Regions from separate parts of the Homo sapiens genome. Here region 1 is linked to region 2. The links come from fine-mapping of genetic effects on gene expression. A gene starts in region 2. The other region holds a variant in brackets. All regions are shown on one strand. Distances are from middle to middle.

The links.
Region 1: its variant is fine-mapped to the expression of RBBP5 in anterior cingulate cortex (GTEx, PIP 0.90).

The regions. Positions count from the first base shown.
Region 1 is chr1:205,062,507-205,072,996 of GRCh38, forward strand. It overlaps CNTN2 (contactin 2), which reads left to right. Exons shown (of 23, transcript NM_005076.5): 10 at 1-63; 11 at 1,816-1,966; 12 at 2,117-2,244; 13 at 2,581-2,756; 14 at 3,283-3,403; 15 at 3,935-4,093; 16 at 4,595-4,744; 17 at 6,985-7,055; 18 at 7,321-7,555; 19 at 7,920-8,032; 20 at 9,441-9,627; 21 at 9,977-10,089. Among named protein-coding and RNA genes, the nearest start is that of TMEM81, 17 kb to the right of the region's middle. RefSeq lists an enhancer at 9,912-10,490. The variant A/G (reference allele first, on the strand shown) is at 3,821.
Region 2 is chr1:205,117,922-205,129,583 of GRCh38, forward strand. It overlaps RBBP5 (RB binding protein 5, histone lysine methyltransferase complex subunit), which reads right to left and starts at 4,057. Exons shown (of 14, transcript NM_005057.4): 1 at 3,934-4,057. The coding sequence starts at 3,952. RefSeq lists enhancers at 2,117-2,675, 3,839-4,018, 4,159-4,378 and a silencer at 4,740-5,034.

The sequences.
Region 1 (10,490 bases), 56 kb before region 2:
ACCAGTGTGTGGCAGAGAATAAGCACGGTACCATCTACGCCAGCGCCGAGCTAGCCGTGCAAGGTAAGGGGCCCAGGGAGGCAGGGGACATCCCAAGGACATGCATATGGTGGCTTTCAGAGCTCTGAGTTTAGGTGTTTCCAAACACACATGCACATACCCTGTGGCCATTTTCCTTGGTTTTCCAACAGTTTCTAAGTAGGAGAACTCAGAGATTTAAGAAAGGAGATGAGACACAGGGTTGACAGCTGCCAGAGGGCAGGGTCTCTGACTTGTTCCATGTCTGGCACACAGTAAATGTTTGCTGCAGTGAGTGAAAAAAACAGAAACCAAATCAATCAGATTTGTGTAACCCAACCCTTTCAGCTATGTGAGCTTTGGCAAGTTACTTAGTGTTTCTGTGTTTCAGTTTCTTGATTATAAAATATAGGCAATAATAGTCCTGCCCTCCTGGGCTGCTGTATGGAACAAGTGAGATGAAAGAGGTACAGCATAAAGGGCCTGCCCACCATACAGCAGGTGCCCGGGAAATGTAAGCCAGTGCTAATATTTAGTTGTGTGACTTGAGCTCACTGAGCCTCAGTTTCCTCATCCATAAAATGGACACAGTGATACCCACCACATCAGGTTTTAGTGAAGCTTTGCTAAGAAGCATTCATTCGTTCCTTCATCCATTCAACCACTACTTACTCAACACTTCACAGGGATGAATATAAAAGATACGGTCTCTGCCTTTAAGTAGCTTACAATCCAGTAGAGGGAAAGGGACAAATAAACCCCAAATCAAACAATTAAATAATTTCAGCTAGCCATCAAATATAGTATAAAGAAAATCCAGGCAGGGTGCAGTGGCTCATGCCTGTGTAATCCCAGCACTTTGGGAGGCAGGGGTGAGTGGATCTCCTCAAGCTCAGGAGTTTGAGACCAGCCTGGGCAACATGGTGAAACCCCATGTCTATGAAAAACACAAAATTTAGCCAGGCATGGTAGCACACACGTGTAGTCCCAGCTACACAGGAGGCTGAGGCAGGAGAATCACTTGAGCCCTGGAGGCAGAGGCTGCAGTGAACTGAGATTGTGCCATTGCACTCCAGCCTGGGCAACACAGCAAGACTTGTCTTTTAAAAAAAAAAAAAGAAGAAGAAAGAAAAGAAAAGAAAAAGAAAGAAAGAAAGAAAGAAAGAAAAGAAAAGAAAACCCAGTAGAGTGATGGGCGTGAGATGGGCCTGTTAGGTGGGGTGGTCAGAGAAGTCCTCTCTGAGGAAGTCTCATTTAGACTGTGACCTGAATGTTAAGAAGCCAGCCGCGTGAAGATCTGGGGAATTTCCAGGCAAGATTTACAGCAAGTGCAAAGCTCTGGAGGCAGGAAAAGACTTCACAACTTCAAAAGAGAGAGAGAGAGAAAAAAAAAGGCTAGGTGATTGGAACATAATGAATGGGGGATAGAGTGGAGCAAGATGCGATTGGAAAGGTGGAGACTTATTTGTGAAGAGCCGGGCTTCACTGAGTGTGAGTTGAAAAAGCTGTTCATTCCCAACTGGGTGGAGAAAAGATTGTAGAAGGAAGGTGCAGAAACAGGAAGACTGATGTGGGGTGGCAGGGGTGGTGGTGAGGGGCGGAGGGGGGGCGCGTTGTCAATAGTCCAGGCGGGAGATTTGATAGCTTAGGCCAGAGAAAAAAGGGCTTGGTTCTGGATGCATTCTGGAAGAGGTGCTAATAGGAGTCACTCATGGCGTGGCTTCAAAGGGCACGCCAAGTAACGTCTTAATCAAGGGTGACAGTACTTTTCTCTGTGGCTCTCCCCTTTCCTTCTAGCACTCGCCCCTGACTTCAGGCTGAATCCCGTGAGGCGTCTGATCCCCGCGGCCCGCGGGGGAGAGATCCTTATCCCCTGCCAGCCCCGGGCAGCTCCAAAGGCCGTGGTGCTCTGGAGCAAAGGCACGGAGATTTTGGTCAACAGCAGCAGGTACCACCCACACCCCACCCTGCACAGTTCCTGCTCCTCCTCATTCTCCATGGAGGCCAATTCCCCTCCTGTGACAACAGTCACAGGAGTTGGCCAGCCCCAGGGACAACCATGCCTGAGTTGGCCACATCTGCCTTGTCCTTGCCACAGAGTGACTGTAACTCCAGATGGCACCTTGATCATAAGAAACATCAGCCGGTCAGATGAAGGCAAATACACCTGCTTTGCTGAGAACTTCATGGGCAAAGCCAACAGCACTGGAATCCTATCTGTGCGAGGTGAGGGCTGCCATGTGGGTAGGCCGGGGGCTCAGCCTCCTCAGGGTACTGTCCTCCCCATCATCCTGCTCCTGTGTCCACATTGCTCCTAGTTTGGTGTCAAGGCCACCCCAGGATTCAGTTTTGCTTGGGACCACCCCCTGGCCACCACTGAGACTCTGGTCATGCCTCCCTGCCTGCCACACACTCATGCAGTCCTGGGCAGTTGGGACCTGTGGGTCACACCACCTCTTCTCTTTGCTGGGCCTTAGGACAGAGCCTCTCAGCCTGCCCTGCGGACCCGGCCTGGGCCCATTTCCTCCCCCATCCACCCAAGGGCCTTGTTTTTCTTGGCAGATGCAACCAAAATCACTCTAGCCCCCTCAAGTGCCGACATCAACTTGGGTGACAACCTGACCCTACAGTGCCATGCCTCCCACGACCCCACCATGGACCTCACCTTCACCTGGACCCTGGACGACTTCCCCATCGACTTTGATAAGCCTGGAGGGCACTACCGGAGAACTAATGTGGTGAGACCTAGGGCCAGAGCCCCATGGCTTCTCCCTCCTTCTAGAGAGACAGGGGCCCCAAGATGTCCTTAGCCATCCTCACCTTTAAGAAACCCATAGCCTAAGCGCCCCCATTCCCTCAGGCCCACACATGGCAAGCTCATCCTTGGATGAACAGCTGACCTTCCTGGATTCCACCCAGGGACCATGCATTTAGGAGAGGGTTAGGGACAAACCTGGAGTTGTGGGCAGCCACCAAGACACTCCCACTACTGTTCTTGTTAGCCTGTCCCCTAGGGCAAATGATATTATTAATGTGGACAGTCATTGACTGTCTCCTGAAACAAACTTTGCTGTTTAGTCCCCAGTGGTTCTAAGTGATGAGTCGTGATTCCTCCCATTGAGCAGACAGGAAAACTGAGATCCAGTGGGGTCCATGGATGTCATGGAGTAGGGGACTCCCAAGCGCTGCCTCATGTCTCATGGCCTGCTGCACTGGTCAGGGCCGGTGGTCTGACCTGCTGCCCCTAACTGTCCCCGTGTGCAGAAGGAGACCATTGGGGATCTGACCATCCTGAACGCCCAGCTGCGCCATGGGGGGAAGTACACGTGCATGGCCCAGACGGTGGTGGACAGCGCGTCCAAGGAGGCCACAGTCCTGGTCCGAGGTGAGGGGTTTCCCACCTCTACCCCTACCCCAACTCCCTTAAAACCCAGCTGGGCTGTTCTGACCTGCTCGCCTCATCTCCCCTCCCTTCCCTCAAAGCTGCGGGGAAGGGCTTCCGGCGGAACTCCTGTGAGCTGGATATACCCTGTGGTTCTTCACAGGTCCTAAATGATCAGGACATTTTTCTTCCAAAGTCAAAGTTTAAAAAATCCACTCCTAAACACATCCCAAGACAGGAGTGCTTTACTGAGCCCTGAAGTTTTCAAAGCCTAGTGCTGGGAGATCTATGCACCTCTCCATGTGACAGCCTCTGTGAGCTCCCCCAGCCTTGAGACACATCCCTCCACCCAACAACTGGCACCCGCCCCAACTGCCCACACCCCTTGCCCGCCCTCCCGCCTGGGTGTGTGTTCACTGC[A/G]TCCTCTGCTGCCCTGTCTTGGTACTGTACCAGCTCAAGCCTGGCTGGGAGGAGGTTGGCTCAAATTGGAAGCTGCCCAATTCTGACCCACTGTGCTCTGACCTCTTGGTGCAGGTCCGCCAGGTCCCCCAGGAGGTGTGGTGGTGAGGGACATTGGCGACACCACCATCCAGCTCAGCTGGAGCCGTGGCTTCGACAACCACAGCCCCATCGCTAAGTACACCCTGCAAGCTCGCACTCCACCTGCAGGGAAGTGGAAGCAGGTTCGGACCAGTAAGTGTGAGCCCCACCTGGGTCAGTGCTGATAAGGCTCGACTGGGTGTAGGAGGTGGAAAGGGTCAAGGTTTGGGGATCGGGGTCTGAGGGCCAGGGCTGAGCCTGGAGCTTCAAAGAGGGACAAGATCTGTCCTCTGCCAGCAGAGAGCATGCAGGCAGGCAGGAAGACAGTCACACAGAAAGTAGGAGAGTCGGGAAAGAGTTAGAAGAGGAGGCGCTTGGTCTATGCCCTTGAAGAATTGGTAGGATTGTTACTGGAGCAATGAAAATATTCATGGGGACATAGGGGCGTAGGCGTGCACACAGCATTGCAGAGGCACCAAGATAGGGAAATTGAGTAGTTTTTCAATCATTTCTGAAAAAGGTACTGAGTGCTTAGTATATGGCAAGTACCGAAGTGAGGGCTGGGTAGATAAGGGGTGATTCAGGCCAGTGCCTGCCCTCTGCACCCAGATGAATAAGCGAATGCTGGAATATGGACTCCCTGGTGCCTTGCAGATCCTGCAAACATCGAGGGCAATGCCGAGACTGCACAGGTGCTGGGCCTCACCCCCTGGATGGACTATGAGTTCCGGGTCATAGCCAGCAACATTCTGGGCACTGGGGAGCCTAGTGGGCCCTCCAGCAAAATCCGGACCAGGGAAGCAGGTGAGAGTCCTGTGTGTCCCAAAAAGCTATCATCAGGGCAGAGACCCTGGCACCACTTATAGGGAATGCCAAGCCAGCCGCAATTATGCTGAGTTCCAACCCTGCTCACAGGGTTCAGACTCTCACAAAACAGAGGAGGACAGAACACCAAGTTGGGACCAGGGCCACTGCATGGACAAACCATCTAGTCCAAACTCCTCATTTAAAAACTGGCCAACCTTACAACTGCATGTGCATCTATAATTTTTTTAAGTTTAATTTTTAAAAGTGGAAAAACCAAAGTTCGGAGAAAGGAAGAGTCACATTGACAGAGCTTGGACTTGAACCCAGGACCATGGGGTGGTAGACAGATGTCTTCCTGGAAGAGTATGCACTACAGAAATCAGTTAATGCTGGCTGGGCGCAGTGGCTCAAGCCTGTAATCCCAGCACTTTGGGAGGCCGAGGCAGGCAGATCACCTGAGGTCAGAAGTTTGAGACCAGCCTGGCCAACATGGTGAAACCCCGTCTCTACTAAAAATACAAAAATTAGCCAGGCGTGGTGACACACACCTGTAAATCCCAGCTACTCGGGAGGCTGAAGCAGGAGAATCGCTTGAACCCGGGAGGTGGAGGTTGCAGTGAGCCAAGATTGTACCACTGCACTCCATCCTGGGCGACAGAGCGAGACTCCATCTCAAAAAAAAAAAAAAAAAAAAAAAAAAAAGAAAGAAAAAAAGGAAATCAGTTGATGTGAAAGATGTGTGTGTGTTCTGTGCAGGGGGCTAGGGAAGCAGCCAGTGTCTCCAAGCCTTTAGATGGTTTCTTTGGGAGCAGATGGAATTGAATAACCTGCCCACAACCCTCAGCAAAAAGCGTGTGGGTGTCAGAACTTGAGTGGAGAAGGAGGGGGAGAAAAGAACCCAGGAGAGAGTAGGGGAGGCACAGGCTCCAGTCAGCATCTGCTGAGAGGCTCCTGCCCATCTCCGAGCCATTCGCAGGGGAAGGCCTGGAATGAGAGCCCGGGGATCCTGGGACCAGGAGCATAGATTAAGGACCCTGCCTCACCTCCTCTACAGACCTGTTGCACTGGATGTGTAGTGAGGGTCCACCTTCTTGTCTGCCTGAAACATGTTCTCCTACATGCCCCAGACTGACTCTCCAGGCCCTTTTTCTAGAATCACTCAACATTTTTAGCTGGTACCTCTCCTGAGTAAGAAATTCCAGAGGCAGCACTTTCTTTGATTGATCCTGAACTTCTTGGAGGGTCAAATGTGGAGAAATGAGGGGACTCCTTTATTCTATTTACAGCATCCCAGTAGCTGAGGAGCACAAAGACAGCTGTGATGCAAAGGAAACATGATGGGCTTTAAAATGAGAAGGGCTGAGTTCAGATTCTACCTGTGCCATGTATTAACTGTGTGACCTTAGGCAAGTTGATTAACTGCTCTGGGCCTCAGTCTTTCCACCCTGAAAAGGGCAATAATAACACCCACCTCACAGGATCAAATGGCCAATGTGTTTAAGTACCTCTTGCAAATTACACGGTCCTAAACTATTGTCATCAGAAGCAAGTGAAAAATCTCCAGCTGCTGGATTCTCTACGGAAATATTTTGACCCCCAGCCAAGTTACTTTCTGCCAAGCTGCAGGAGCTGATGAAATAAATTCCTGTTTTAATATCAGCCTTGTTTAATACTAGAGACAATTAGGAGATTAAATCTGCAACAAAAAGAAAAATAGATAATATATCACCCTGGAGCCCAAAAGTAGTTTGTTTTGTTTGTTTGTTTGTTTGTTTGTTTGTTTGTTTGTTTGCATTAACTGCAGTTCTGGGTTATTTATTCCCCTTATTTTAAAGCGAGTGAGAGTTGGTCTCTGTGATTTAGTTTAAGTTGATGGAGTAAGGAGGACAATGATCATGTGTGCATCATCTGCTCTATACTAACCACCGTCTTGTCTAATTTCATTCTCATTATGGCCTCTGAGAGAAACATGATTATCTTCATGGAGAAGAGAATCAGAGGCTCAGAAAGGTTAAGTGACTTGCCCAGGGAAGCACAGCTAGTAAATGGCAGAGGTGGGATTTGATTTCAGGACTGCCTGACTCCAAAGCCTATGTTCAGAGGGACCACTGGGGGGCAAACCCAGGGCCCAGTTGAAGGGGTTCCCATCTTACGGTGCTCTACAGGCACAGGCTCAGGGCTTTCATTTTTTCCTTGCTCATTAACAAGCCATATCGGTGTCCCTTGGCCCTTGACAGCCCCCTCGGTGGCACCCTCAGGACTCAGCGGAGGAGGTGGAGCCCCCGGAGAGCTCATCGTCAACTGGACGGTAAGCTGCAAGGGTCAGATGTCCTCCTCCTCCTCCCTGACCCCTCTCCCGCTTGAGCAGCTGCAGAAAGGACCACTGCACAGCTCTGACTCAAACGCGGATAACTTCCTGTCCCCCTTCCACGCACCCGCTGCCCCTTACGCGAATCCACGCTGCAGGCGTAGGCGTCCAGGGCCGCTACTCTTGGCAAAGGTTGGGTGGGGCCAGGGAACGGGCAGGGACACATGCCGCGGACCCTCGCCCATGCCATGCTCTTGCCCCTCAGCCCATGTCACGGGAGTACCAGAACGGAGACGGCTTCGGCTACCTGCTGTCCTTCCGCAGGCAGGGCAGCACTCACTGGCAGACCGCCCGGGTGCCTGGCGCCGATGCCCAGTACTTTGTCTACAGCAACGAGAGCGTCCGGCCCTACACGCCCTTTGAGGTCAAGATCCGCAGCTACAACCGCCGCGGGGATGGGCCCGAGAGCCTCACTGCACTCGTGTACTCAGCTGAGGAAGGTGGGCTGCCCCTGGGCCCCCTGCTCGTCCCTACCCCAGCCACTTGTCCACAGGGATGTGGGGTGGGGGAACGCTACTCATCTCCCAGCTCAGTTCCATAGGAGGAGGTTGAGAGGACACCTGGGTTCCACATCATTGGCCTCACTTCCAGCTCTTGCTACCTTGTCTCCCTTCGGGGTTAGGAAAAGGGAGGCTCTCTGGGAATAGAAGTGGGCCCTGGAGCATTGCTTGGGGGGCTCCCACTCGGCCTTCATCCTGAAGGCTTTCCTCCAAAATCTTAAGCAAAGGCAATCCTGGTTGGGGGCTGCTCTGCAGGACACAGGGGGGCCCTGGGAATCCAAACCCATTCTGTATTGGTCCCCAGAGCCCAGGGTGGCCCCTACCAAGGTGTGGGCCAAAGGGGTCTCATCCTCAGAGATGAACGTGACCTGGGAACCCGTGCAGCAGGACATGAATGGTATCCTCCTGGGGTATGAGGTGAGCACCAACCTGGGACTTGGGAGAGGAAGGGGTGCTGGGGCTTCAAAGCCAGGTGGGAACAACTCACAGACCACTAATCATTCCTCCTGGCGTCCCTGGTTCGCTGACATGGCAAACTGAGCATCCAGTCTGTGTAGCACTGTGAATGCAAATTTCACTAAGACCCCATGGCAGGCCAGGCGCGGTGGCTCATGCCTGTAATCCCATCACTTTGGGAGGCTGAGGCGGTAGATCTCCTGAGATCAGGAGTTTGAGACCAGCCTGGCCAACATGGTGAAGCCCCGCCTCTACTAAAAATACAAAAATTAGCTGGGCATGGTGGCCCATGCCTGTAATCCCAGCTACTCAGGAGGCTGAGGCAGGAGAATCGCTTGCGTTCAGGAGGCAGAGGTTGCAGTGAGCTGAGATTGCGCCACTGCACTCCAGCCTGGGTGACAAAGCGAGACTCCATCTCAAAAAAAAAAAAAAAAAGACCCCATGGCTTATGCCCATTGGGGAAGACAGACCCTGGAGGCAGCCTTAAAGTAAATGCTTGGCTAGAGCCAGCATTGGAAGCTGAGAGGGTAGAAGGAACAGGTTCTGGGAAGGGGCATGGCCTGCCCCTTTCATCCCAGAGCCCATTCAGGCTGGCCTGTCCAGGGCTGCACAGAAAACAGCCTGAGCCGCTCTATGGACAGTTGATCATCCTGTCCCGGGGGAATCTGGGGCCCAGCAGTCTGGCCTGAGTCCTGGGCCCACTGAGAACTCCACAAAGGGGTACCTGTGGAGCAGATGGCAAGTGATGGGAAGCAAGAGGGAGAGAAAGAAGGAAAAGCAAGAAGAAACCATCAAGCTGGGCCTACTAGTGATAGCACAAGTTCATTCTAGTAGAGTACTCTAGATTTGAGTACAATAGCTTAGGCAAGCCACAGTGTGGAGATAATTCCAAACTCTGCCCTTGCCTCTGCCTTTGAAAGCATATTTAGCAGGTCTTCATGCTATGATTACCATGAAAATGGGTTTGCATTTATTAGGCAACCTTCAGAAGCTTGCTTAGGGCCAGGGGACTACTTTGCAATACAAATAAGCATTTTCTGTCCCTTAGCAGAATGCCCACGGTAGCCCCCCAAGTTAATGAAATGAAATGGGTTCCAGCAGGCCATTGCTAGGTTGAGCCTGTGCCACCAGCTCCCTCCCTGACCCATGTCTTGAGCACCTTCCTTGAACTACGCACCAACAGACAGCAGGGACTCACACCCACATGGCCCTGCTGTCTGGGTGCTCATGATCTAGTCTCCAGGTTCTGAGGCCTAAGACTGGGTCACAGGGACCAGGATGAGCAAGAGAGGAACAGAATGTGGGGGCCGGGGCAGCCCTGAGATCCTGGGCTTGACTACTACCCCTTGGGTACCCCCGCCTCCTTCAGATCCGCTACTGGAAAGCTGGGGACAAAGAAGCAGCTGCGGACCGAGTGAGGACAGCAGGGCTGGACACCAGTGCCCGAGTCAGCGGCCTGCATCCCAACACCAAGTACCATGTGACCGTGAGGGCCTACAACCGGGCTGGCACTGGGCCTGCCAGCCCTTCTGCCAACGCCACGACCATGAAGCCCCGTGAGTCTGTCTGCCTGGGGTGGGGGTAGGGCAATATTTTGGAGGGTGGGTGCCTCTGAGATCATTCCTTCCCCAATGATAAGACAAATGCTCTAGCCCACCAGCTCTGGGCTGAACAGAAATTAGGCAGCGAGCCTAATGGAAATAAGGGAATGGAATTCATGGCCCCTGAAGCGTCTCACACTTCTCCAACCTTTGGATTTTCATGGGCTTTGTTTCGTGGGCATGACAGAATGTGCTGGGTGTAACTGCTAGAGGCAAACATCCAGAGAAGGGCTGGTTAAAGGTGAGGGGGTGCGGGGTGCCAGGGAAACGTTTGGACATCTCTCCAATTCTTCCTCTCTGGCAGCTCCGCGGCGACCTCCTGGCAACATCTCCTGGACTTTCTCAAGCTCTAGTCTTAGCATTAAGTGGGACCCTGTGGTCCCTTTCCGAAATGAGTCTGCAGTCACCGGCTATAAGGTGAGGAAGCAATCAGCTAGGCCCAGAATGGGAAGGAACAGCTCCTCTGTGTTTCCAGTGAACATAAGCAGCAGCAATTTATAGCAAGAGGCATCTGAGTGAGACATAAGCAAAGGGTTTGTGACTGTGAGAGGAATGAAATTCATGAACTATTCTCTCAGTAACTTGCAGTAGAAACTATAAAAACGGGCAGATGGTATCACTGCAGAAAGGCAGAGTTCACAGGGGCAGTGATGGACTATGGGGATGGAGTATGGGGGTTCTTCTAGCTTAAGGAGTCTACGGAAACAGTTCAGTGGCCTGCAAGCTTTCCTCCACCAATGAGGAGCTTTGTCAATGGGGAGGAGGGGTGAGGAGGCTGGACCTCAAGAGCCCAGAACCATCGGGTCTCCTCCCAGTAC
Region 2 (11,662 bases):
GCCTCAGCCTCCCGAGTAGCTGGGATTACAGGCATGCACTGCCATGTCCGGCTAATTTTTGTATTTTTAGTAGAGACGGGGTTTCACCATGTTGACCAGGCTGGTCTCCAACTCCTGACCTCAGGTGATCCACCCACTCTGGCCTCCCAAAGTGCTGGGATTACAGGCGTGAGTCACCACACCCCACCTCAACTGCTTGTAAGTGCTTTTAGCTGGATTCCCATAGCTCATTTATTGTGGTTCCCTATTATACACAGCTACTTGTTTGTCTCTCCTCTTAGCTCTATTTACGAGGGCAAAAGTGGTATCTTATTTCAATGTTTTTCAAACAGTAAGACGCAATCCACCATAAATGGATACATTAATTTAGTGAGTTGGAACAAATGTTGCAATAGATTAGAAAATATCGGCCAGGTGCAGCGGCTCACGCCTGTAATCCCAGCACTTTGGGAGGCCGAGGTGGGCAGATCACTAGGTCAGGAGTTTGAGACCAGCTGAGCCAACATGGTGAAACCCTGTCTCTACTAAAAATAAAAAAAAAATTAGTTGGGCATGGTGGCACACGCCTGTAATCCCAGCTACTTGGGAGGCTGAAGCATGAGAATCACTTAAACCCAGGAGGCGGAGGTTGCAATGAGCCAAGATCGCCAAGATCATGCCACTGCACTCCAGCCTGGGCGACAGAAGCAAGACTCCCTCTAAAGAAAAAAGAAAAGAAAAGAAAAGAAAAGAAACTATCAGAGAACACTGAACATAACAAGGATTAAATATAATTCTGAGAAACTTAGTTACACGTGTAGGTATATATAGTGAACTGTGATAGAATATATATTTCTTACTGTGATTTGTGGTAAAAATAAGTTTGACAAATGATCTTATTTAATTATATCTCCGGTGCACACTGGTGAATACACAGCAGGGACTCAAAAAGTGGTTGCAGAAGTAAAACTAGTGTCTACCTATGAGCCACTTGTCTAACCACATTAAAAATACATTGTCATTCATTTCCTTCATCTGGCCAGATGTCCTTCAGTAGGCTTCCACAATCACATTACTTCTGTTCCTTTCCTTTTATCTATAATCATTAACTTTCTCACTTTAAAATGCAGAGTCATTTTCAGAGATTGTTATCTTTCGGACCCAGGCTTCTTTAATTTGTCTAACCTTCCAGTGCTAAATATTCCTTCCTGGCTGGGCACAGTGGCTCACACCTGTAATCCCAGCACTTTCAGAGGCCAAGGTGGGCAGATCACTTGAGGTCAGGAGTTCCTGACCAGGTTGGCCAACATGGTGAAACCCAGTCTCTACTAAAAATACAAAAAATATAGCCAGGTGTGGTGTTGGGTGCCTGTAATCCCAGCTACTCGGGAGGGCTGAAGTAGGAGAATCGGTTGAACTTGGGAAGCGCAAGTTGCTGTCAGCCGAGATTGTGCCACTGCACTCCAGCCTGGGCAACAGAGCAAGACTCCGTCTCAAAAGATAAATAAAAATAAATATTCCTTCCTAAGTTTTATCCTAATGAACCTTCTGTATCATTCAAGAAAAGCCTTTTGCAAGATCCTGCTACTCTTTCAAAGTACTAGCGTTATCACCTTTCTTCCATCCTTAAGTTTTTACAAGTAAGCGTCAACCTTTTGCCCTTGTCTCCCACACCATTCTAAAATCATTGTAATCTGGTTTCTGTTCCAGCTGCTGAGGAGTCCCAAGCTGCCAAAGGACTAAACAGAGCAACCCATTCTCAGCCCTCAGACTCAACTGCTCTGATTGGCTTCTATGAAGACGCCACACCAATCTGTACTCTCTTCTTCCTCTACATAGATTAATACATGGAAGGCACTTGAAAATCTGCCTAGCTCAGAGAAAGTACTTTATAACCGTTAGCTAACTTATTATCTCCACTTATTCCTCCTCTTAACCTCTAACTACAGATTGTGTGCTTGGCAATTTTCTTTTCTCCCCCTCCCACTTTTTCTCTAGATCATGTCCTCTATTCACAAGGTTTCAATGAGCCCATCTGAAAGAATACAAATCTCTCCCATAAATCCAAACCTGTCTCCTGACCCCTAGACCACATTCAGCTTCTCCAAAGCTGTCTTTTTCCAATGACCTTACACTTTATCAACAGCATCATTATTTGCTCTCACCATTTTTCACGTCACTCTCTTACTCATCAGCACTATATGCAATCTATTCTCAAATTTGTCATCCCTACCTCCTCAATGTCTTTTCTATTTCCTAGCTCAGGCCTTCCTCATCACTCATATAATCTACCCCTCCAAACTGGTTTTACACTCCTCCAAAACTCAACTCCACATTGCTGTCAGACAAACCTTACAAACTCATAGCTCTGATTGAGTTACTAAGTCAAAATCCTTCAATGGATCTACCCTACCTTCCCTAAAAAGCCCAAACTTTTGAGCTAGGCATTCGAGAACCAACACAAAATAGATGGCACCGATCCCATCCCCTGGCATTCTCTTTATCCACAACCTGGCCAAGCAGGAAAATTCTTTAGGTCTTCTCTCACTGATGCCTACTGAACATCCCTCCCATATTTTCATACTTCAGCCTGTTGATATTTTACCAACCTTAAAAATCCACTTAAGGCCGGACACTTTGGGAGGCTGAGGTGAGTGGATTGCTTGGGGCCAGGAGTTTGAGACCAGCCTGGCCAACACAGTGAAACCCCATCTCTGCTAAACATACAAAAATTAGCCAGGCATGGCAGTGCGCACCTGTAGTACCAGCTACTCAGGAGGCTGAGGCACGAGAATCACTCGAACCCAGGAGACAGAGGTTGCAGTGAGCCAAGACTGTGCCACTGCACTCCAGCCTAGGCGACGGCGCGAGGCTGTCTTAAAAAAAAAAAAAAAAGTCCACTTAAAACTCCAACTCCTCCACAGGTTTGGGGGGTTTGTTTTTCCTGGTTGACTTCTTCCTTTACCCCAAAGACATTCACTCTCTGTTCCAAACATTCTTAGCAACTGGTAATGACTCTTTCAGGCCTGCCTACATTCTGCAATATCCTACAGCTATTTTACATAATCACCTTAAACTCCCTGCTTAATGAAAAGCTCTTTAAGGGCAAAGACCATTTTTTATGTATCTTTGTAGCCCTTTTGACAATTAACATATCTTCTGACTTTTTTAAAAGAGAAACCTAACCATTAGGAACAGCAAGTAGTGCAGAAGTCCTTGAAAACCTCAGCTACCCCTAGAATACCATGCTAAATGTCACCTAATGGAAGTCCAGGAGAAAGGACCTACAGTTTTTAAATAATCTGGATAGGAGGTAAGGAGGCAATGACTCAAAGTGAGGGCGACAAAAGACAACTCCCTCCGTATTTCACACCTCAGTGTTTTACACACCGTCCCTAGCAAAGGACCTTAAACAGAAAGTTAGGATAATTGGATTCCAGTGCCAACTATGCCATTTACTTGCTTAGTGCCTAGCCATTACCCTCTGAGCCTTTATTCATCTGTTCAATGAGAAGCTTCTACCAGAAGATCTCCAAGTCCCCTCCTTAGACTTCTCTTTTCTACAAAAAGATTAACCTGTTCAGGCACCCAATTCCCTGACAAGTCTTCAAAGCTTCATCCCAAGCCTCACTTCTTCAAATTCCATCTCCAACAACTCTGGTCCTGGCTGCTCTGGGTACTTCAACACCTGCGATCCTCATAATCAAAGCTAAGTCACAAACTGTCTGTCCCCATCGCTCCATAATTGATATGAAAGTGGCCTCGGGAGGGGCAATGCAACCTACTCGGGCAGAAGGTGGGCTTCCTCCTCCCGCTGCTGCTCCACATCAGGTGTGCCCAGTGATCCATAGCCGAACAGTGTCCCTAAGATTGCAGCCTGACTCCCCTCCCGCCTGGGTTCCCTCCTTTCCAGTACCCAACGCTTCTCTAAAACGCAGCCACAGCCCTTCTCACCCAGCAACTCGAGGTTCATCCCTGCGGACTGTGGCCGCCCGGTCTCAGCTCCGGCAACAACACCTTCTCCCCGGCCGGCTTCAGCAACTTGCGTCTAAGTGGTGGACGCCGCGAAGAGACTGGCGCAAGCTCCGAAGACTTTCGGCCTTAGAAGGCCCCGCGGCTTCCGCTTTCTTCCCCCGCCTTCCTTGTTCGTTTCAGGTGGGCTGCCCAAATATATGCCTGACCAAAATCAAGCATACACTCTCTCGGAAACAATTAATTATGATCTTTGCTGAGGTACAACAATGTTATCGTCACTAGGGACTTTAAATAGCGCGACAATTTAAGATTATTTGCTCCGGGAACATGTAGGTGAGGTAGAAATTCCAGGCATACAGTTAACCTACTAGTTCTTGCCCTGTTGTGTGTTCAGCGGCGTTGTCCGGGCGGGCTACCTCAGACTCCGCAGGAAAGGTTCCGGACAAGTCCTGCTAATGCAAGAAACCAGGGAAGGTCGTCCCCTAGTGCTCGGGTGTGTAGCGCCGCTGACCTCACCAAGGCGCGTACTTACCCTGTATGTAGGTGGCGTTGCAGGGTGTTTCGGTCTCGTGAAAATTATTTCTCATTTGTAAAGATATGCTATTGATCCTACAGAAAGGTACGACAACATATGTTAGGCCTGTCTGTGTTAAGATAATAAAAACCTTATTATCTAAGGTTTTACCCTTTACCAAACAGTGTTGACAGGGACGCTGTGAAAAAGACTGTGAAAAAGAATTGGAATGAGGGGTGGACTGAGTTTCCCGGAGCTCAGTCATACAGAACTCCAATGAAATACCCAAAGCAATTAGAGAAGTCCAGTTACTGGTATCTAGCGAAAGAGCAAATTTTATATGAACAAATTCCTACTATAAATGCTGTGGCTCATCAGAAAAAGGAAACAACGTCAAAGGCTCGCTGCAGAAAATAGTACTCGGGCTAGGTCTCCGACAATGGAAAAATACACATACACAAGTTTATTAATCGCAGTATTGTCTGCAATTGCAAACTTTTGGAAACAATAATGAAACTTTTGAACTAGGGAGCCCAGCATTTTCATGTTGCCCAGGGCCCTGCAAATTATGTAGCTAGTCCAGTCTGCCTCTACTTGACAAATTTGCAGAAAAAGCAGCCTCATTCACACAGTGCACCCTGTCCCTGGGCCCCAGTTGATTGCTCTTTCAGTAAGCCCCTGACCTAAGCTCAACCCAATTAAATTCCTTTCCCAAGAATTTGGAATGGGAATTAAGTGGCCCCCACAGTCTGACACATCGATTGAAGAGAGTAAATGTGAATTAAGGAGCTATTTAAAGCGCCTAATAATAGATGGACACCATGGTAGTTGGCTGCAGGTTGCAGAATGAAGCAGAAGTCCAGAAACTAGTCAAAGATAATACTTGGTGTATCCAATTAGTTCCCAAGAACATATTACATTAATGTCTTCTATTTCCATTATCCTTGGACCTTTATAAAGTATGTCTTTTGCAGCCGGGTGCGGTGGCTCACGCCTGTAATCCCAGCACTTTGGGAGGCCGAGGCGGGCTGATCACCTGAGGTCGGGAGTTCGAGACCAGCCTGATCAATATGGAGAAACACTGTCTCTACTAAAAATACAAAATTAGTTGGGCGTGGTGGCTCATGCCTGTTATCCCAGCTACTCGGGAGGCTGAGGCAGGAGAATCGCTTGAACCCGGGAGGCAGAGGTTTCAGTGAGCCAAGATCGCACCATTGCACTCCAGCCTGGACAACAGAGTGAGACTCTGTCTCAAAAAAAAAAAAATCCACAGTTTTTCTACTCTCCAAAGACAAAGGAAAACTTTGCATAAAGGCAAAAGCAACAAGGAAAAATATCGTGTGAAAACCACAGCCTAGTTTCCTCTAAATTCTCTGACTCTACTCTCAAATCCAAAGTAATCATATATATATGTATTTAGAGATATGGTCTCACTCTGTTGCCCAGGCTGGAATGCAATGACGAAACCATAGCTCACTACTGTAACCTTAAATTCCTGGGCACAAGTAATCCTCCTGCCTCAGCCTCCCAAATGCAGGGATTACAGATTACAGCTGTGAGCTACCACGCCTGATTCCAATGTAATAATTTTTACAGATTGGATGCTAATATAGCTAATGAAGTTAAAATTAAAGCTGTTAAAAATAAAAATAGTGAGGCCAGGTGCAGTGGCTCACACCTGTAATCCCAGCACTTTGGGAGGCAGAGGCCAGGCGTATCACGAGGTCAGGAGTTCGAGACCAGCCTGGCCAACATGGTGACACCCCGTCTATACCAAAAATACAAAAAATAGCCAGGTGTGGTGGCGCATGTCTGTAATCCCAGCTACTAGGGAGGCTGAGGCAGGAGAATCGCTTGAACCCAGGAGGTGGAGTTTGCAGTGAGCCAAGATCATGCCATTGCACTCCAGCCTGGGCAACAGCAAGACTTCATCTCAAAATAAATAAATAAATAAAATGAAAATAAAAATAGTGTTAGAAAACCCCTGAGGAATTTTCTTTTCTTTTCTTTTTTTTTTTTTTGAGAGGGAGTCTTGCTCTTGTCGCCTGGGCTGGAGTGCAGTGGCGCAATCTCAACTCAGCACCCGGCCCACTGAGGGATTTTCAGTACACCTTTTTCCTCACACCTCTTTTTCCCTTTCTACCCCTCCAATCCTATTTGGACTTTCTTTTTTTTTCTTTTCTTTCTTTCTTTTCTTTTTTTTTTTTTTTTTTGAGACAGAGTCTCACTCTGTCGTCCAGGCTGGAGTGCAGTGGCATGATCACAGCTCACTGCAGCTCAACCTCCAGGCTCAAGTGATTTTCCCACCTCAGTCCCCCCAAGTAGCAGGGACTATAGGCAGGCACCAACATGCCCAGCTAATTGTTGTAGTTTTTGTAGACAGGGATTCACCATGTTGCCCAGGCTGGACTCGAACTCCTGGGCTCAAGCTGTCTGCCCACATCGGCCCCGCAAAGTGCTGCCATTACAGGTGGTGAGTCACCATGCCTGGCCTTTTTCTTTTAAAAAAAAAAGAAAGTTTAAATAACCTGTAAAAATTAGAGAGCAAGCCATGGCACTTCAAAAAAAGGGAAGTGATCTATTTGACAACGCCAGATCTCATCAGTAATCAGTAAAATGCAAATTAAGTCACAATTAGATATTTACAACGACAAAGTTGACAAACTAAAAGAAGAGCACCCAAAATTCTTGTAAGAGAATTCTCTCAAGAGAATGTGAATCAGTACAACCACGTCGGAAAACAATTTCTTGTTATGTAGTAAAAATGACCTTGTTTACATTTTTATACACTATGACCAGGAAATTCTACCTGTAGGTATATATTGTAGAAAAACTCTTGCACAAGTGCACCAGGAAACATGTACAATGGACATAGTACCATTGTTCATAATAGCAAAAAAAAATCACAAATAGCCCAAACATCAAAAACTGTAGAATGGCTATATCCTGATATATTCATATAATGAAATCAGCAATAAGCAGCTAATTGGCCCCCCTGCTACCTACCTCTCTTCTACTGAAACTCATTCTTTTTTTTTTTTTTTTTTTTTTGAGACGGAGTCTCGCTCTGTCACCCAGGCTGGAGTGCAGTGGCGCAATCTTGGCTCACTGCAAGCTCTGCCTCGCGGGTTCACGCCATTCTTCTGTCTCAGCCTCGCGAGTAGCTGGGACTACAGGTGCCCGCCATCGCGTCTGGCTAATTTTTTGTATTTTTAGTAGAGACGGGGTTTCACCTTGTTAGCCAGGATGGTCTCGATCTCCTGACCTCGTGATCCGCCCTCCTCGGCCTCCCAAAGTGCTGGGATTACAGGCGTGAGCCACCGCACCCGGCCTGAAACTCATTCTTTTCCAGTCACATTGGCACTGCCTTGCTATTATATGAGCTTGCTAAGCACTTTATTCCTGCAGGAATGTAGCACTTTTGTTCCCTCTGCCTGAATCCCTCTTTATTTGTGTGTGTGTGTGTGTGTGTGTGTGTGTGTGTGTGTGTGTGTGTGTGACGGAGTCTTGCTCTGTCACCCAAGCTGGAGTGCAGTGGTGCAGTCCCCACTCACTGCAACCTCCGCCTCTTGAGTTCAAGCAATTCTCCTGCCTCAGCCTCCCAAGTAGCTGGGATTACAGGCATGCCCCACCATGCCCAGCTAATTTTTGTATTTTTAGTAGAGACAGGATTTTGCCGTGTTGGCCAGGCTGGTCTCGAACTCCTGACCTCAGGTGATCTGCCCACCTCAGCTTCCCAAAGTGCTGGGATTACAGGCGTGAGCCACTGTACCCGGCCCCTACTTCATTTTCCTTCATGGTAGTTATCACCGCTTGTCCCATTATACATTGATTCATTTATTTGTTTCTTCATTGTCTCCCTTTTACGAGAGTATAAGCTCCTTAAAGGTAAGTACTTTGTCAATTTTATTCACAGATATGCCATTGTGCCTAGAAAAGAAAGGGCATACAGGTGCTTTAATATGTATTTGTAAAATATTTGCAAAATAAATGAATCAGTATAATTAATGCAAAGATTTTTTCAGACTGGCTTCAGAGACAGAGGCTCTCAGACTGGCTTAAGAAATTAAAAATAATCCTTTTTATTCATTCTGCAGAAGATAAACAAATATATTGAGATGGCCGTCTCAAAATCTAAAAGCTGTTCTAGCTTTTTAAAGTTATTTGGAAATAAAAATTAAACTTTTTTTGTACGAAACCCTCAGCAGTTCGTTGTGATTTCAGATTATATCATAAGTGATCAACAGTAATACAATTTATGAGCCATTGTTATCTCTTACACTAATTATTCTTTTTTTAACTATATATATATATTTTAGAGATGGTGCGGGGGGGGGTCTCCCTATGTAGCCCAAGCTGGTCTCGAACTCCTGGGCTCAAGTGATCCTCCCACCTCAGTCTCCCAAAGTGCTGAGATTACAGGCATGAGCCATCATGCCTGGCCTACTTATGCTTCGTGAAGTCACATAGTTATTTAAAATATGTCTTATGATTCTTGATAAATAAAAAGATTTATATTTTAGATGAGTAATAAGACCATTTACCAGTAGAAACCCTTGTTCTTTACATTGTATAATAGTGTAGAAAAACATGGTAGAGAAGTCTGCCACTTAAAAAATAAAGCAGAGAGATGAGAATAAAATAATTATAAAAGACTACTTTTTGTACCACTTCATGACAAGAAATTAAAAAATCTAAAGGAAGCCAGGTGTGGTGGTTCACACCTGCAATCGCAGTACTTAGGGAGGCTGAGGCAGGAAGATCACTTGAGCCCAGGAGTTCGAGACAAGCCTGGGCAAAATAGTGAGACCCTGTTCTAAAAAAGAATAAAAACGGCTGGGCACAGTGGCTCACGCCTGTAATCCCAGTGCTTTGGGAGGCTGAGGCGGGCAGATCATGAGGTCAGGAGTTCGAGATCAGCCTGGCCAACATGGTGAAACCCCATCTCTACTAAAAGAATAAAAATTAGCCAGGCATGGTGGCATGTGCCTCTAATCCCCACTACTAGGGGGGCTGAGGCAGGAGGATCGCTTGAACCTGGGAGGTGGAGGTTGCAGTAAGCTGAGATCGTACCACTGCACTCCAGTCTGGGCAACAGAGCGAGACCCCGTCTCAAAAAAAAAAAAAAATACAGCTTTCTGATAACTTTAGGATCACATCATTTGGACTAGGTAAGAATTCTCAGAACTCTAATAAAAGGAATGACTGGTTTATAAAACTGCTAACCCAAACAGGACAAGAATTAATTGAAGGCTGGGGTAGTGCCTCATGCCTGTAATCCCGGCACTTTGGGAGGCCAAGGCAGGAGGATCCCTTGAGCCCAAGAGTTTGAGGCCTGTCTAGGCAACATGGGGAAACCCTGTCTCTACAAAAAATATAAAAATTAGCCGGACATAGTGGTGCATGTCTGTAGTCCCAGTTACTTGGGAGGCTGAAGTGGAAGGATTGCTTAAGCCTGGGAGGGGGAAGTTGCGGTGAGCTGAGACTGCACCACTGCACTTCAGCCTAGGCAACAGAGTGAGACCCTGTCTCAAATAAATAAATAAATAATTGAATACCAAGAAAATACTTTGCCAAATTGTCATACTAGATCAGCCAGTATGGAAATTGTTAAGATGTGCAATTTGAATAAATTCCATGGTCCAACTCAAATTACCTATGCTAACCCATCTAATAAACAGTGCTATGCACCTAAATTGGGGAAACACAGTTGGTATTAAAATATAAGTCCAATATTAGGCGCAGACTCATGGAGAACCCTGATGGCTGCCTGGCCCTTCCTGAGTCCTTAAAGCCTCCATTATTAAGCTTTCCATGATTCATCATGAAGAGATAAAATGTTCCAAATTAAATGTGTGTGTATGTGTGTGCGTGAGTGGGTGTGTATGATGACTGTTCTAAATTGCTAAAATAGTTTATGATCAATGTTTTGTTTGTTAAACCCATAATCCTGGGAAGATGAACACAACTTCAAGTACATTTCTGCTACCTGATGGGTCACTTAAACCTTTATAGAAGAATTTTATTCAATTGTCATTTTCAGTGCATGTTTTCTGGTTGTAGTGATAGAAGTACTAATACTTATTTCACTGGACAAGTTGTAAAAACAGTTTTATTTATTTATTTTGTTTTTTTTTAATTTTTTAATTTTTATTTTTTTGAGACGGAGTTTCACTCTGGTTGCCCAGGCTGGAGTGCAATGGCGCGATCTCGGCTCACTGCAACCTCCGCCTCCCACCTCCTGGGTTCAAGCAATTCTCCTGCCTCAGCCTCCCTAGTAGCTGGGATTACAGGCGCCTGCCACCACACCCGGCTAATTTTTTCTATTTTTAGTAGAGACGGGGTTTCACCATGTTGGCCAGGCTGGTCTTGAACTCCTGACCTCAGGTGATCTGCCCACCTCAGCTTCCCAAAGTGCTGGGATTACAGGCATGACCCACCGCGCCTGGCCTATTTATTTATTTATTTATTTTTCAGACAGAGTTTCACTCTTGTTGCCCAGGCTGGAGTGCAATGGTATAATCTCGACTCACTGCAACCTCTGCCTCCCAGATTCAAGTGATTCTTCTGCCTCAGCCTCTCAAGTAGCTGGGATTACAGGCATGTGCCACCACACCCAGCTAATTTTGTATTTTTAGTAAAGGTGGTGTTTCATTATGTTGGCCAAGCTGGTCTTGAACTCCAGACCTCAGGTGATCCACCCTCCTCGACCTCCCAAAGTGTTGGGATTACAGGCATGAGCCACGGCGTCTGGCCATAAAACAGTTTTTTGTTTTTTTTTGGTTTTTTTGAGATAGAATGTCCCTCTGTTGTCCAGGCTGGAGTGCAATGGCATGATCTCAGCTCACTGCAACGTGTGCCTCCCGGATTCAAGTGATTCTTCTGCCTCAGCTTCCCAAGTTGCTGGGATTACAGGCAACTGCCACCATGCCTGGCTAATATTTATATTTTTAGTAGAGATGGGGTTTCACCATGTTGGCCAGGCTGGTCTCAAACTCCTGACCTCAGGCGATCCTCCTGCCTTGGCCTCCCAAAGTGTTGGGATTACAGGCATGAGCCACCGCGGCTGGCCAGTTTTTAAAAAAGGATTGCAGATACAATAACATTAGGCAAAGCTAACTGAATTGACTAGATTGCCTTGGTCAAAGGTGTACCAGATTGATGACAATCAGATCCACTTCCAGTAGAAGATGG